Linked DNA regions of Homo sapiens: region 2 is linked to region 1. A link means that fine-mapping ties the variant in region 1 to the expression of a gene that starts in the linked region. Tissue or cell type: fibroblasts. Region 1 holds a variant in brackets; the other region holds the start of a gene. All regions are shown on one strand. Distances are from middle to middle.

Region 1 (8,000 bases):
TGAGGAGAGGTAACTTTGATCCAACAAATCATCTGGTAGAAGGGCTGCTATGTTAGAAGGCCTCAGAGATCACCCAGGTACATCCTGAGCACTTATGCAAGAAAGAAGCCAAGAGAATCATTTGAGATGACTGAAGAAAGCCAGTTCCAGCTTCTGAACCAGAGGCAGTTCAGAATAAGCCCAGAGTGCCCACTATCTACATTAATTAAATATATTAATTCATCAGCTAAGGTGCTAGACTCTTAAGACCCAGGACATTATGAAAGGATGAATTTATGTTAATGATGGAGTGCAAGAAACTCTGTAGGCAATTTTGCTTTGCTTTGATTATGCTTTCCTCACAGTTTTGACCACTGGGACATTTATAATCAAACTTGCTGCCATCTTCCATCAAGTTTAAAGTCCTGAGGCTGTATGTAGACTGTGCTCATCTCACTCTTGGCTTTATTATTTTCTCTCCCTAAATCCCAAAATGTACTTGTACTTGTAATAGCCTTTTACATTTTAAGTCTTTTTAAGATTCCTAAAATCCTATATTCAAATTAACCAATTTGAATAATTGACTTGAAGAATTACACATTCGTCTCTCAAAAGTCAAATAAGGCATAGAAAAACATGTTTAAAGGAATAGCAACTTGCATAGAGCTTTATAATTATTTTTAGCTAGGTCTTTCCAGTATTATTACTTTATGCCAGCAATTTTTTTTCAGTAAAGGGCGAGATAAATATTTTAGGCTTGTGGGCCACATACAGTCTTTGTCGCATAGTCTTCACGTTCTTTGCTTTAAAAAAAAAAAAAACACACACCAAACAACCCTTTAAAAATGTAAAAACAATTCTTAGCTTCCTGAAGTACAAAAAACAGGCTGTGGGCTTTTATTTTGCCCACCCCTGTTTCATGTTAACACATTTTGAAGTTGTATAGATTCTCTCTGAATATACTGAGCATCCTAATTGTTCCTCAGTTTCCACTTGGGAATCAGTAGACGAACTTCACGATTCTCACACGTTTCATAAATGATTAGGTTTGGAGAAAGACTAGTGGAGGCAAGAAAACTGACTATGACCAATAGCAATCATGTTGACCGGTTGCTAATATGTGGGACAAAAAAACACTCTCCATGACTAAATAAGGAAATTGGATCTTTTCTTAAATATCCATATAAACATTTAAAGACTTAACTAAAAATAACAATAAAAATTCTGCAAAACCATATCAATCAGCAGGGCTTAGAAAGCAAACAGGACAGAGCTCTGAATCTCTATTCCCTGGAAAGAATATATATTCTTTCCTGCTAAGCAATCAGTTAGTCAGTTAATATCAGTTAGCTCCCAAGGGAAGAAGAGGTCCTCTTCTAGAGATAGGTCCGATTAGCTTTTTTAAGCTGGTTATTTTCTTCACGCATGGAGAACTTAAGGAGCTAATAAGAATGCCTGGGTTTCTGAAAAGCCAACATCTAAATAATTATAGACATTACAGCAACACCTTCAGAGACTACTACCTCTCAAAGAAAAGAGAGCTGATGGTTGCTGCAGATTTAGATGCCCTTTGGTCTTTAATGGTCTTTAATTCGATCTTTCATTCCTCACCTCCCTGGGAATGTCTCCCACTCTTTTATGGCACAAGCCTTCAGGGACTGAACAGTAACTTTTCTCCAATGGGCTGGTGGAGCTGAAAGAAAAGAGATTGGCAATGTCAGGGAAGGCCGGGATCCGCAGCTCTACAAACCCGGCAGCCCTCTCCAGTGAGCACAATGGCATAATGGCCACCACCCAGCTGAGCCCAGGCGAGTACAGAGACCATTCATTGTCTGTCCTCAACCACCAAAGAAGGAAGGAAAAAAACAGGGTTGAGGTCATTCACTAAACACTGACGAGGCCTATAGGCAAGGCAGAGACTGAGTCTTGAATGATATATTTTTCCATATAGCCTCTCTTAAAAAACGGATTTACACTTCAGTACATCTGCTCATCCTGCAGGATCTATTTTTAATGCATAAATATACACAAAGAACAATAGATAAGAGCTTTGTAGTTTTCAATGGATAAAATGTGACTATTTCCATCAAGTTACCAAAAAATTTCACAAATAAGTGGCTTTGTTGACAGGTAGTGCCATCAAATATATTCTTTTAATTACATATTTATGTTCTTATAAATATAGAATATAGGACAAATCGTAGCAACCAAAAAAGTAAAATAAAAACACAAATTCCCCTAAAAACTAGAATGTATACTTGAACTAGATTTTCCTATCTTCCTTTTCTACTAGAATTCTAAAAATACATGAAAATTCACCTGCTTTGATCTTTGCACAGAAACACATTAAAAGCCAATCATTAAATAAGTTACTCTGGCTAAAGCCCTGAAAGTCAAACCTTCCCTACAAAGCTCCAGTGATTTGGTTCTCTGAACCAACCAGGTAATTTGGAGGATTTAGTTAGGTCTTCAGTACACACTGTTTCAAGGAGATCTGCTGGACACTGCAGCAAAATAAGTGAAGGTATGGTGAGAAATCTGAGTGAGATAGATTGAGTCATATGCGGTTCCAAGGAATCTCTCTGTACATGCAATAATAACCCTATCACAGAAGATGTCTTCCAATAATACACACAACAGTAAGAACTTCCTCACTAAGACAAAGAATATAATAGGGTTTTGTTGAGGGCTGGGCTTCCTGCCCCACCTACTTGGGCAGCCCTGCCCCCATCCCTGGCTGGTTGCTGAGGCTGGCAAGCTCATCTGGCTTGATGCCCTCATGGCCTCCCTCCTGTGTCTTTGCATGGTCCCTGCTTAGTGATTTGGACATCAAAGATGGCTCAAGTCCAAATGGCCTTCTTCCACCTGCAGACATCCAAGCTCCATCTTGGGCAGGACACAGGCCTACTCAAGTGCACATGCCACTGTGTTCAGAAAGCCTGCATCTCCCCGTCTATAATAGCTACAGTTAAAACTGATAGGCAAGGGAGCCAAAAAACTGAGTTTTATTTTCTTTTCATTCCCTCAATCCCCAACCCCAATTTACCCTCTTCTGGATGTTGTAATAAGTACTGTCACAAAGAAGGCATAGCATGGGGAAGGAGTAAGGCTGAAAGGATGCAGTTAACAATTCTTTTTTTCATACAAATGACATTCCACCCACAGAAGGGCATTGTTTAATTTGTCAGCAAGTGTGATGAATTTGTGAATGGGTTTATTTGCAAGTTCTCTGAATCCCCTTGTGACTAATATCAGAATCAAAAGTGAAATATGAGGCCAG[G/A]AACAAAGTTACCCTCTGACTCAGGAACACAACAAGCAATGGGATGACTGAGAATGACATAATGATAACATAGTTCAAAAGAGGAAACAGATAAGTTTGTTTCACAGCAAGCATGTCCTTCATAAGCAAAACCTAGTGTGACCATAAGGTAATAAGGGTTGAATAGGCAGGTTCTGCAAATTAAGAGCATAACAGCAAAAACCATGGCTAGTTTAAAGTAGTTAAGATCGCTAGTACATTTCAGGCGTCTTATTTCAAATTTACTTTTTTCTATAAACATATTCACGGTAATTCCATGTTAATCTCTCTTTTCTGAATTTATAGGCACTCACTATGCCTCATTTACTTGGGCACTTACTCAGTTACCTGTAGGCATGGATTCTACAATCTACTCCTTTTAAGTTTCCTATTTTCCTTCCAGCATAAAAATAATAGCTAATATTTCATGCTCTTAGATGCTGCTGAAATTGTTGAGCTTGTCTGTTGTTTCCTGATAACGTTCTCTCCTCCTGCATCTACTCCCCAAAATCTCTGAGGACCTAGTAACTCAAAAAACTGACTATAAAGCACCAAATCTTTTCAGGAAGCAAATATTTAAATACATTATGTTTTCAAAGATCTTTTCAATTCATCTGATATTTGATCAACTACATTCTTTTTTCACTTGTCCAGCTGTTCCGTGGCTGAATTTCCTCTTGTAGAGAAGTTGTTCAAAAAAAGTTCTGTACCTACTTTGCAAACTCTCCAATTTACACTCTAGCCTTAACTGTTCAAAACTTTCCCCCGTCATTCTCATCTCACCCTATCCTTTAAAAAAAAACCCAAAATGATTAATCACCATCTATAGAACAGTTTCAGAATGAACATTTCTCTCTGGAACTTTAGTTTGTATACTTCCCCAGCACAGCAATGAACACACAGAGGGGATTTATACACCTGTGAACTTGCTTTCAGTTATGCTTATTCCAAGTTACTAACCAGCAGTCTTTAAAAATATATGGTTTCTGTTCACATTGAAATTACAAAGAGACTGTTATTCCGATAAATTATGCTAGCAAAAATAGTATTTTTAAAGGGTAGCTCTCATCCTACAATTCATGGGGGCTGTGAGCATAAATAATCCTAGAAGTGTTGCGTTACTAATCTTTAGTCTAGATTTTTTAAGTAATATTGTTCTGATTTGAGATGAAGAACAGCTGAATACACAGCCTAGCCTGTCAAACGAGTTTAAAAACATCATTCCTGAAAAAAATAAAATTGTTCAGAACCATCTGATCTGTACTAAGGGAACATCAAGATTTCAGAGCTAAAATGCACTTCGTTGGCCACTGGTTCAATTACAGCTCATTACTGATAAGTGGGCAGAGACACAAGGCCCATAAACTGTAGGCGCCAGATGTCTCAAGATAACTCCCACCAAAAGCTGACCTCCTGCAGAGGTTAAAGTGCAAGAGAAAAGAAAGAAACCCGAATTTTTGAGCAGAGAGGGCAATATCCTAGACATCCTTCAAGTATGTGGCTGTCCTGGGCGATCTTCTATTCAGATACTGGACTGGATGGGCAAAATCCGAATTCACCTACAGACCTTAACACGGTGGTTCTCGGCACCCCAGAATCACCTGGGCAGCTTTAAAAACTACCGATGCCAGGGCCCCACTATTAGAGATTCTGATTTCATTGGTCCGGGATGGGGGCCCGGGGATCAGAATTCTTAAAGAGTCGTCCAGTGATTCGGAAGCACTGCAGAGCTGAGAGCCTCTGGGACTGGTCCCCTCTCACAATTAACCTGCAATGATTTAGGAATCTCATGGGCCTCCGGCCCCACCTTTTGTCGCGGGATTAAGATAATTATGAGAGCAACGTGACGTCCAAGACCTCGGCTCTCTGCGCATCAGAAGAAGCCAGGGCCCGGGGCGTCTAAGCTCCTCCCTCACTCCCCAAAGGAAACCCAGCCGTCCCCGAAGTCACCTCGTGGGCGCGCAGCTTGCGGATCCTGGGCGTTGGCCGCGCAGGGGCCTAGTTTTCCTTGGAGAGACAGAGGGGGAGTGGGGGACGCGAGGGAGGCGGCTGTTGCCGGGGCGACTGGAAGCGCGCTTCCGGTGCGGAACACGTGGCGTGGCGCGGCGCGCCGGAAGTCCCCCCCTGTGTCGCGGACGTCACGTTCGCACCGCAGGCGGTGCAGTGCTGGAGGCCGGAAGCTGCCTGCTAATCGGCTACCCCGAGTGGAGCGCCGGGGCGGCAGGCGTGGGATGGCTGCGGGTGGCGGGGCCGGCGGAGAGGGAGCTGCACCGGGCGGGGCACTGGGACTGTGGCGGGCACCCGCGCCGGGGGTCGGACGGTGCTTCTGCACCGGCGAGATAAGGGTCGCTTCTGCACCGCCCGGGTTTCCAGCCTTTAACTTTTTGTCCTTTCCTCAGCTTTCTTCGTTTTCCTTCCCTTGTCTTTACTTAGCCTTTTCTTTCTTCCTTTCTGTTTTCTTTCTTAACTAAAACAGTTTTAGTTTCTTAATTTGTCCCAGCGTAAAACACCCAGTCTTTGAAAATAGATTAACCCAGATCTCAGTTTGAGTGCGAGTCCAGTGCTAAGTTTGTAACTTCCCCAAGCCTCGTGTGTCTCATCTATAAGATATGCATAACCTAATGCAGAGTGCCTGATGCATTGCAGCAGACAAAACATTAGTACTAATATGTTTGTAATTATAACCATCACAGCAATACCTGCCCTGTTAACATTACAAGAGTCATTAACAAGAACCAAGCATAAACAATTAGAAGTCTTACGTGACATATCATTTCTGGGGCAATTACCATATTTAATACTTTCTGGGAATTTATTCCAAGGAAAAACAGGTACGAACCAGATAGATGTTTATTACAGAATTATTTTAAAAAGTGAAAATTGGAAAAGACCTAAATGCCCAACAAGGAAATGGCTAAGTCAATTGGGTGGTATTAATGACGTGACATTACTGTATTATTCCTGGACTACAGAAGAATTAAAATGGTATAGAAGAATATTAACTTTAACAAATATTTACTGGATGCCGGCTATGTGCCAAGTATTCTATGTTAGCGCTGTCCATTGTAACCACTACATGTGGCCCTGAGAACCTGAATTGTAGTAGTCTGAACTGAGATACACTGTAAGGGTAAATTACACTCTAGATTTTGAAGAAGAATGAGAAAAAGAATGTAAAATACCTCAATTTCTTTATAGTGATAACATCTTAGAGAAGGACTATTGAGGTTAAAGACTAAAATTTGATCTTTATCTTTTTACTTTATTAGTGTGGCTACTAGAACATTTAAAATTATATATGTGGCATGCATTGCATTTCTATTGTACCGTGGTATTCTATTTACCGGATACACAGTAGTAAACAATACAGTTTTGGGGCTCATAAAATTAAATCTTTTGTGTAGAACATAGACAATAAGCAGATAAATAGAATTGTATGTTGTGGTGAGTTATATGAAGACAGTATAGCAGGGTAAGGGCCAGAAAGTATGTGTATATAGAGGGGGATTATTTTAGAAAAGATTATTCCTCCACCTCAGAAAATGGATGTGGGAGGAAATGAGATATCTATGGATAGAAGCAGGAGATGGTAGGAGGGTGAAGTCTTATGGGAAAAGTCAGGTGTGGATTGAGACAGATAAGTCAGATGGGGCCTGGTGCAATCTCTACCTCAAGGAAGAAGCCAGCATCTAGAGAGGCAGGAAAGAAAGATGGAGAGGGGTAAGATAGGGAGAAAGAGCTTAGGGGGTTCCTGGGAAAGGCAGAAGGATGCAGGCCTAGAGTGGATATAGTTCAGGTAGAGTGATTCCTGGTTCTATGAATGAAAAAATACAATATATATGGTATACTATGGCATTAGATAGAATATTAGTTGGCTGCTGTCACAGAGACCCAGAAGAGGAGTGGCTCAAACTGTTGAGAAGTGTATTTCTATCTCATGGCAGTCTGGGTGTAAGGAGTCCAGAGTATGGCAGCTCCACCTGTCTCATAGCTCCACCCTCCCTGGTTTCTTGCCTTGGCCCACATGGTCCAAGATGGTGCACCACTGCACCTTTCAGCCAGTGGGAAAGAGAAAGCCAAGGGCATGCCCTTTCCCTCTAAGGATTTCTCCACCTTGGCACTATTCACATTTGGGGTTGGATAATTCTGTGTTTTGGGGGTTGTCCTGTGCATTGTAGGAGTTTTAGTAGCATCTCTGGTCTCTACTCACAAGATGCCAGTACTGTCTCCCAGTTGTGACAGCCAAAAATGTCCTCAGACATTGCCAAATGTCTCCTGGGCTGGGGGAGGAGGGGGCAAAGTCACCCCCAGTTGAGAACCACTGCTTTAAGAGTACTACCCAGAGGCGGCCCACAGCACTTCTGATCACTTCCTACTAATGGCCTGAACTTCATTACTTAGCCCTCCTAAGGGTGCAGGAGCTTGGAATTGTCTTTTTCAGATGGCCAAGTGCCCAGCTAAAAGTTGACTAAAGAAGAAAAGAAACTAGCTGATTCTCCCATACCCTTGTTGCTGCAGGGAATGGAAATTCTGTAGCTGATTGAGGATGTAGTCCTGTTCTTTTCATCTTTAAGTCTGAGTTTTAGTCATTACTCACTTTAACTCACTTGCATAAAAATACTGGTGGTGGGGAACACTAAGCACCTAAGGAGCGACAATCCTATTTGAAAAGAATGGGGATTGTTACTCCAGGGGGTTAACCAGGGAGAGAAACTGAATTTTG
Region 2 (8,000 bases), 210 kb before region 1:
ACACCATTAAACGAATAAATGAATGAACAACAAAGCACATTTGTGAAACTGGGATTGTAACCTTCCTCTCTTAAAAACAGTCGGTGTGGTCACTTTCTTCCTCCGTTCCATGGCCATCCCTACTCCTGGCCAACTATCTCCCATGTATGTACATTTGGTCCAAAGGAGAAAAAAGCGAGAGTGTCTTTGTAACAATCCAATCCAATCCATCACAGTCACAGAGAGGGGAAGTTTAAGTCATGGGGACACTGGTTATTTTGCATGTTCTCAGATACATCAAGACAAAGTCACTTTATTAAGATCATTTAGTCTAAATTGACCCTGTACTTCCAAATAACAGAGAAATGTGATCTTGAAAATCATAATAATCTTAATTCAGGGTTTACACTCAATTTCAGGGAAGGCAAATCTAAATTTCCAGAAATGGCCCAGAATTCTTTTTCTAACGAAATAGCAAGGCCAAGTCTTTAAAAAAATCCTAATGGAATTAATAATGTAAAAGTAGAAGATGTACCAAATGGCTCGTTGAGATCTTTTCCACATTTAAATGTTCTAAAAAAAAAAAAAAAAAATCAAAGGAAGCTGTATCATACCTACCACATATGTTCCGCACCATCTGGCCAGCCACTTTTCTCTACAGCCTATTCCCCAGACACCAACTCTTCAGATGTCCACCTTGGCAAATTCTTACAGATAATAACTGCATCTAAAACTTCCTCTGTACCATATTTATATAGCCAAGTTAGAAAATGTCAACACAAATTTCAAAATGCAATAATTCGCAGATCATCAGGAATAGTGTGACGTGTGTTATGTGTCCCTTTGGGTTTTTAATCACACAAGTCGTATATTCTAGAGGAGTGCTTTTCTTCCTAAACGAAAAATGAGAGCCAAAAGTGCATACATTTTGCTAAATTAAAAAAAAAAATAAGAAATTATATCTATTTGATCAAAAAGATTAAAATAGATGTATTAATTTTTTAAGGAAGTCAATAATTTAAATTCATTTCTTACTTTGACTATATCCTGTAATTTATTTTAAATTACACATTGTTTCCCATTCACTATATTTTTCTTCCTGTGTGGTTAGGAATTTAATTTGATGCCTGTAATTTATTTCAGCAACGATTCATAGGAAGTTAACTAACCTGACTATAATTGTTTCAGTAGAATTCAATTACCTACATATAATGAAAATAATTTTCATAACAGATAGATTTTTCCCCCATAATAGAGCATACAAAGTTGTTATGATTCAATTGTTTTTCTACTCAGTGATTATCCACTCTCAGCAATTTCAGATGCATTTATTTTCACAAATGAAATGACAACAAGTAATACTCCACTGAAATCAATGGAAACCGACTCTCCATCTTTTTATTATTGGGTTCCATGATCTATTTCTTTTGATTCTGTCTTATTCATTTCCTCTGCTTATTCCATGTCAGTGAATCTGCTTACTCAATCTTCACACTTTAATGCTTTTAATTTAAAAACTATCATTTGTAATAATTTGGCATTTCTTACATCCATCTAAGAAAATCTGCTTGTTTTCCTTAAAAATCCCTAAATATCTACTAAATACTCTTGTGAATTTTGGTATCTGGTAGCATGCTGTGATGAAAACTATCAGACTGAAAAAACACAAATGCTTTCCTTTTTTAAGGACATGGATTAATTTTGTCTAAAGTAGAAACAAAGTCATTGTGATTAAGTTTAAAGAAAGAGCTCTCTTTGTAGGAGTTAGTGAATCACAATAGCTGGGTTGTGTTGTCCCGCTGAAACTCCCAGGAAAGATCCCAACTAGAAAAGCAAGGTCAATTTATAAAGCTAAGTTTAATTTACATTCTTAGTTCTTAATAGACACTGCAATAATTATCCAAAGATATTAATTCACATGCTATTGGGTATTAGCCATTGGGCAATAATGCCCCAAATTAAGAGACAGGCATCACTCCATCACCAACCACTGAAAACAGATGGGAAAGGAGAAACACAGGAAAAAAAATATATATGTGCATAAAAAACTCTGCGTAAAGTGACAAAATTTACAGGATTAAATTTAATGAATAAAATCCTTTGCTGAAAGGCTTAAAAGAAAAACATAAAAAACGGATCCACCAGCTCAAGAATTATATAACACATTCTATAAATAATTATGTCAAGTTTTCAAATGTTAATTTCAATGGAAAAATAATTTTTTAATAAACTTAAAGTTAAATCTGAAGGAATACTGATGTGACAATCACGCAGAAACATTTGTGGCTATCATTTTATCCTATGTGTACCTTAATGATGATGGGTGAGCAAATTGGGAAACTACAAAGTGTCTTGTGTGGGCTTTGATTTTGTGTAGCCAGCATATGAACTTGTTCATCTAAATGCAGATTAGATAAGCCACCCTCCAGATCAACAATTATGGTGGGTCACACAACAATCACAACCCCTCTTGCTGTAGATCAGGAAAAACAAATCCCCTGGCTTGTATTCTTATTCAAGCATGTACCATACATGTCACACTAGCTTCTGGTAGTGTGATATTTTTGAATTATTTAACAAGCAGCTAGTGTTTATACATTTAGGTAATTTTTAAAGTTCCTTCACAAATTATCTTTTGCTTCTAATTTTGTCTCTAAAATCACAACTAATGACTTTTCATATACGGGTTGTCAGGGATGTACTAGCAACCTGTAGATCTGTTATTAAATAAGATTTAATTGACATAAAATAATAGCAGTCCATAAGACTAAGTGATAAGATACACAGTTGTGTAGTAATGATTTTATATTGGTTATATGACCTTTGCTTCCTTTCAGAGAGAAATTTAAAAAAGGGATTTTTTTGCAAAGACCAAAACGGTTTTATCTGCCATGGTTGAATACCACATTAATAAAAATTAAAAGTATGTACTAAGTAAAATCATCATTTTAGGATAAAATCGTGATAGGCTTCCTTGGGACAATGCTATTACATTATCATACCCCGACAACATGCAATCAACTTAGTCTCTAGTCATCATGGAAAAAACTTTGATCTCACTTCTTCATCTTGATAAATATTCCCAAGAGCTTCTCTTATAGCTATTTGGTCATTGATGAAGATTTTTTTTTTTTAAAGACACACAAGAAAATACAGGCTGGGTTTTTGGTGGGGAGGTGTAGATTTGGTAAGAGGATTGAACTAAACAAACGATTTTAAAATTAAGGTGCTATGTACTTAATGCCACTGAATCGTATACTTAAAATGGTAAATTTTATGTTATGTGTATTGTGTGATACCTAAAAAAATTAATTTAAAAAGTAAAATTGCTCTGTTTAGGATAAAATATTATTGTGTACCAAAGAAATTTTATATAAAAACAAGCAGTCTTTACCCCAGCATACTGTGAAGCTGAAGTACATGTAATTGCCGTTTTTGTAGGTTTAAAATGGTTGACTATCAGCAATTTCATATGGTTCAGCCTGTATCTTTATAAATAAAACGAAGTTTTGTCCCCGTACTGGCGAATTACTCTTTAGTGACTATCAGTGGACGCAAGGGCTGTGAGAAATAACCTTAGCATGATGGCTTTTTATATTAGAGCCACTGCGGTTACAGAATATGTTTTTGGGCATTTATGACAGTCTATGACTTTGAGTGAGGGAAAATTACAATGCAGTGAGATCCATTAACCTAACAGTGGCTGAGCCGATTCTATGGGACATCAAACTTGAAATCAGTCATTATTTAGAAAAAAGAGATTAATTTTAGTTCCTTTCTGCCATTTTCTTACTGCAAAAACACTTTATTCTCCAAAAAACCATTCTGTATATGAAAATTGTGGTACGTTCTAAGATTCTCTTTAAGAAATAGGACCTTTATCAATTTTCTTCCCCCCAGTCTCCAAGTCATAATTAGCAGAAGATCCCCCGCCCTGCCTTTCCATCAGCACTGGGTGACAGAGCTGATGTCCCCTCTCTGAAGCTCCAACTGTAAATGATTATTACATGTCGTAGTCAGGGCCTGATACAAGAAAGAGCAATCATATTAGAATAAGAAAATTAGAGAATGCCCAAATCACTACAGCATTAGCGGAACCAAAGCAGAATTAACATGCATGCCCCTCCAGTTCCTCCTCAGCATTAGCAGAAAACTACACATTCCACGTTCCTGGAATATAACATGCAGGACACAAGACCTAAGTTACGATTAATTATATTAATAAAAAAAGACAGTTTCCCCAATGCATCAGCCCAAGGTGACAAACTATAGACATCCCTCTATGAAATATCACGTCGGTAGAAAGATTTGGAACAGGAATGGATTGAAGAAAGGCTGCTCTATTAACTTAACATCAGCCCACAGGAAAAAAATCAACCCTGAAAGCAAGACCATGCCATAGGGATTGTCTCAGAGCCATTTTAAAAGAGAGACAAAACCCAGCTAACCCTTTTTAAGCACCCCCCAGTGAAAAGCTTTAAACAGGCTATTGTCAGAGCGCTGGGTACCTTTTCTCTCTTGGCTTTGTTCAGTATTTTCCTCGGCTGCAGTTTCCATGGCTGGCTTCATACCATCCACCAAAAATGCTTTTCCCCCTGTTCCCCCCAACACACACTTGTTTTTCCTCCTCTTCCTTTTCTTTTGGACTCCCCTCCGTCTCTTATTTACACCCGTCTGATTGAGAGGCTCTGTTCTTCACTACAGTAGATTACAGTCCCTTCCAAGATGCAAAAGTCTTGTCAGCGTCAATTTCGCTCTGCCTACTGGTCCATAAAGACAGCTGCCAAGGGGCAGGCAGCCATACGTCACCGAGGATCCCAGTTAGAAAACAGCCATTCGGCGCCCGGTGGTGCCTACAGTCTCAATGCGGCTCCAGTGGGAGTTGGGGGTAGGGGGGTGGGGGAGAAGGACCTGCTCCCCACCGGGCTCTTCCTCCTTGCTCTCTTTCTTAAGATCTCAATCTCGATCTCTCTCTCTCTCTCTCTTTCTCCCCACCTCATTTCTTCTAGCCAAGTACACCCAATGAATGCTAATTAATTCTCCCAGGAAAAAATAGATTTGTGACATCAGAGGAGGGGATGTGAAGGAGAAAGAAAAGAGCCCCCTCCCACCACGTGACTTTGTTGGTCGACAGCAATATATGTCGTCTCTAAGGAGAATGCATGTCTTTGCATAGGCATGACACTTTCTTTCCTGTGTGGTCCATTTATGATGTATCAGTTTATTTCATTTACCCCTCGACCCTGGCAAAACATATTCAAAGGACGTGCCCATAGTCTCTATTTACTTTCTTAAATATTTGTCTTTCATACAATTTCTAGATAAGTACATTGCTTTTTAAAAATATAAATTAAAGAGGGGGAGAAAATACATTAGAGGGAAGAAAACTCAAACACGGATTTAACGATAGCAATGTAGCAATTTGTTATTAGAACCCACTCCCTTGTCTATAGTTAATATATATGATAGTAAGAGAAACTCAAGCCTAATTTGTAAAAAGGCACCCTTCCTTATTTAAAAATAAGCATAACATGTTCACAAGTATATCGAGCTGACATTTTGGTAGTTTCTTGGAATGAAAATCAAAATAGTTTTTTAATCGGATATGGTTATTTCTACATGGAGTTTTACTCATTAGAATTCCTCACTCCAAATCGAAGGGGTGTTTTCAAGAGCTCTCTAAATATTCAACATAAAGGCTAGTATACCAATAATGATTTGCCTTCTTGCATACCCAGATACCATGAGGCCAACATTCTCAACCCATACCAACATATAAGCCTTTATCATGATTATGAGCCATGTTTCCAAGCATCACTAATTTCTGCACCATTTTTTATGCATTTGGCTGACCAACTGGCCTTCGCCGTCCCTATAAAAAATTAGAGAGACTCAAGTCAAATACAGGGATGACCACTGATAGGATTCCCAGATCATGAATAGTCTGCTAGTTGGTTGGGCTTAACACTTATCTTGGAAGCAAACATAAAGACAAGTTGGAGACCACCCTCTCCTAAAATCACTCTCCTAAGTTTTGATGGTTTCTTGCTCAACTCCTTGAAAAAAAAGTATAAGGTACTGAATCAAAATCTTCTAAAAACCTGATCTTTTAATACCTTGGTTTTAGATAATCCCTCAAACCTTCTTATATTTAGAACTTCTAGATGTGTTACAGTCGAGAAGATTTTGAAAACCAGTTTAGCTTGTTTCAACGTTTAATTTTACATCTTGCTTTTCCCTTTACCATTGTCTTAGAAGACCACGCCCACAATCAAATATGTATTCCCTCAAATTAAGGCCCCAGCCAATTTTATTGTCTCCTGGTCAGGGGATTGAGAAGTATGGCAGCCTAAAACCACAGACTTTAGAAAAAAGATTCGTTTGTGATATAATTATTTCCATGGGAAAACCCTATGGTGTGTCCGGATAGGACAGTCTTAGACATTTTTTGCAAAGACTACTTAGGTCCATTCAAATATAGAAAGGTGGCAAGTGTTGGTATGTAACAGGCTTGCTTTCCCAGCAGTTCAAATGAGAATTAAAACCAAAACAAAATTCAATTCAGCACAAAAGAGGACACTGTGATTAGCTGTTATTGGTTTTTAAAGTGTCCAGCAAAAACATCTGATTATAGAACCAGCAGATCCTAATAATTTTTTGGCTGTTGCTTAAGAATATTATTTTAATAGTGATGCTGGTGAAAAGGCAGAATATGAAAGACATTCTTAATTTAAGAACAACTCTAGTTCTATATCGAGATCAAAACCATTAGACAAAATATTCACACATCCTCCAGTTGATACCTGCATCTACTTTCCACCTGAAAAACTACATGGAAATGAGCAATTCATCACTTTTGCCTGATTCACAACTTCATCATTTTCTTTTCACTAGGATAATGTATTACAATTCTAGAAATTACCATTATATCACTTTATAACAGCCTCAAGATCTCACTGATGTTTATGATAAACCATTTGAAAAACAATTGTCAAGAGGAAGAGAGAAGAGTATTGCTTATTACATTTCTGAGATATGCATCCATTTTTGGCCAGAAAAGTTCTATATGTAGAAGTAGGATGGAAAATGTCTTCCAGAGCTGAAAATATTTCTTTGAGCCCCATGCTCTAAGGCAGTCTGGTTGAAGGTAAGAACACTTCTGAAAGCCAAAACAGGAATACAAAATACTGAACAAAACAGATTAGAATAAACATATGAAATTGCTGATATTGACCAAGAAGAACAGCAGTTTCACGTGGTTTGACTTATATGTTTGTAAGTCTTCTGTATAATTGCAGCCAGCTCAGTAAACATGCATGAAGTAACCTCCCTAGTGCCAACATCTACAAGCAGCACAGACATGCACAAGTGACGATGCCTGTCTCCAGGTAACCCACGGCTAATGGGACACAGAAAACTCTTCTAAAACAGGGTGCTCCTGCCTGCCACAAGCACTATGGCATCACAACAAAGAAAATGGATGGAGGGGGAAGAGAATTTGAAAAAAGCTTTGCAGAGTTGAGTTGGCTATTGCAGTAATGCTTAGAAACCTGCTGGGTAGGGTAGGGAAGGGAAAAGCAGGAAAGAGGAACGGAAAGAGTTCTAGGAAAAACTGAAGGGCATATGAGAGGAAAAAGAGGGTACTGTCAAAGGGTCAGGAAGTGATTTTTCTGACAGAGGGACTGAAGGGAGATGGCTGAGCCAGTAGGTTGGGAACCAGGTAGGTTGAACACCTTGCTAGCCCTAGAGGCAGTAGGTAGAGATAGAAGGCTCAAGAGCAGAGCTGATCGTGCTTTACAAAGGTCATTCTATTGGTAACGTGGAAGACAGGGTGGGTGGAGTATGAGACTAGAGGCTGGCAAACTAGTCAGGAGTCTCCTGCAACAGTACCAGTAAGAGATAGTGTGAACCTGAACTATGGCACGGGGAGGAAGTGAGGACCCAGATGTCATTGGATTGGATCTGTATGAGTAGGGGTGGAGGAGGATTTGAAGGGGAGGCTAGAGTTTCTAGCTTGGGTG

The links. PIP is the estimated chance that this variant, and not a neighbour inherited with it, causes the effect.
Region 2: GPM6B starts here. The variant in region 1 is fine-mapped to the expression of GPM6B in fibroblasts (GTEx, PIP above 0.99).

The regions. Positions count from the first base shown.
Region 1 is chrX:14,024,550-14,032,549 of GRCh38, forward strand. It overlaps GEMIN8 (gem nuclear organelle associated protein 8), which reads right to left and starts at 5,343. Exons shown (of 5, transcript NM_001042479.2): 1 at 5,228-5,343; 2 at 1,591-1,672. RefSeq lists enhancers at 4,932-5,432, 5,433-5,933 and silencers at 5,310-5,509, 5,544-5,683. The variant G/A (reference allele first, on the strand shown) is at 3,260.
Region 2 is chrX:13,812,357-13,820,356 of GRCh38, forward strand. It overlaps GPM6B (glycoprotein M6B), which reads right to left and starts at 4,737. Exons shown (of 8, transcript NM_001001995.3): 1 at 4,488-4,737. The coding sequence starts at 4,548.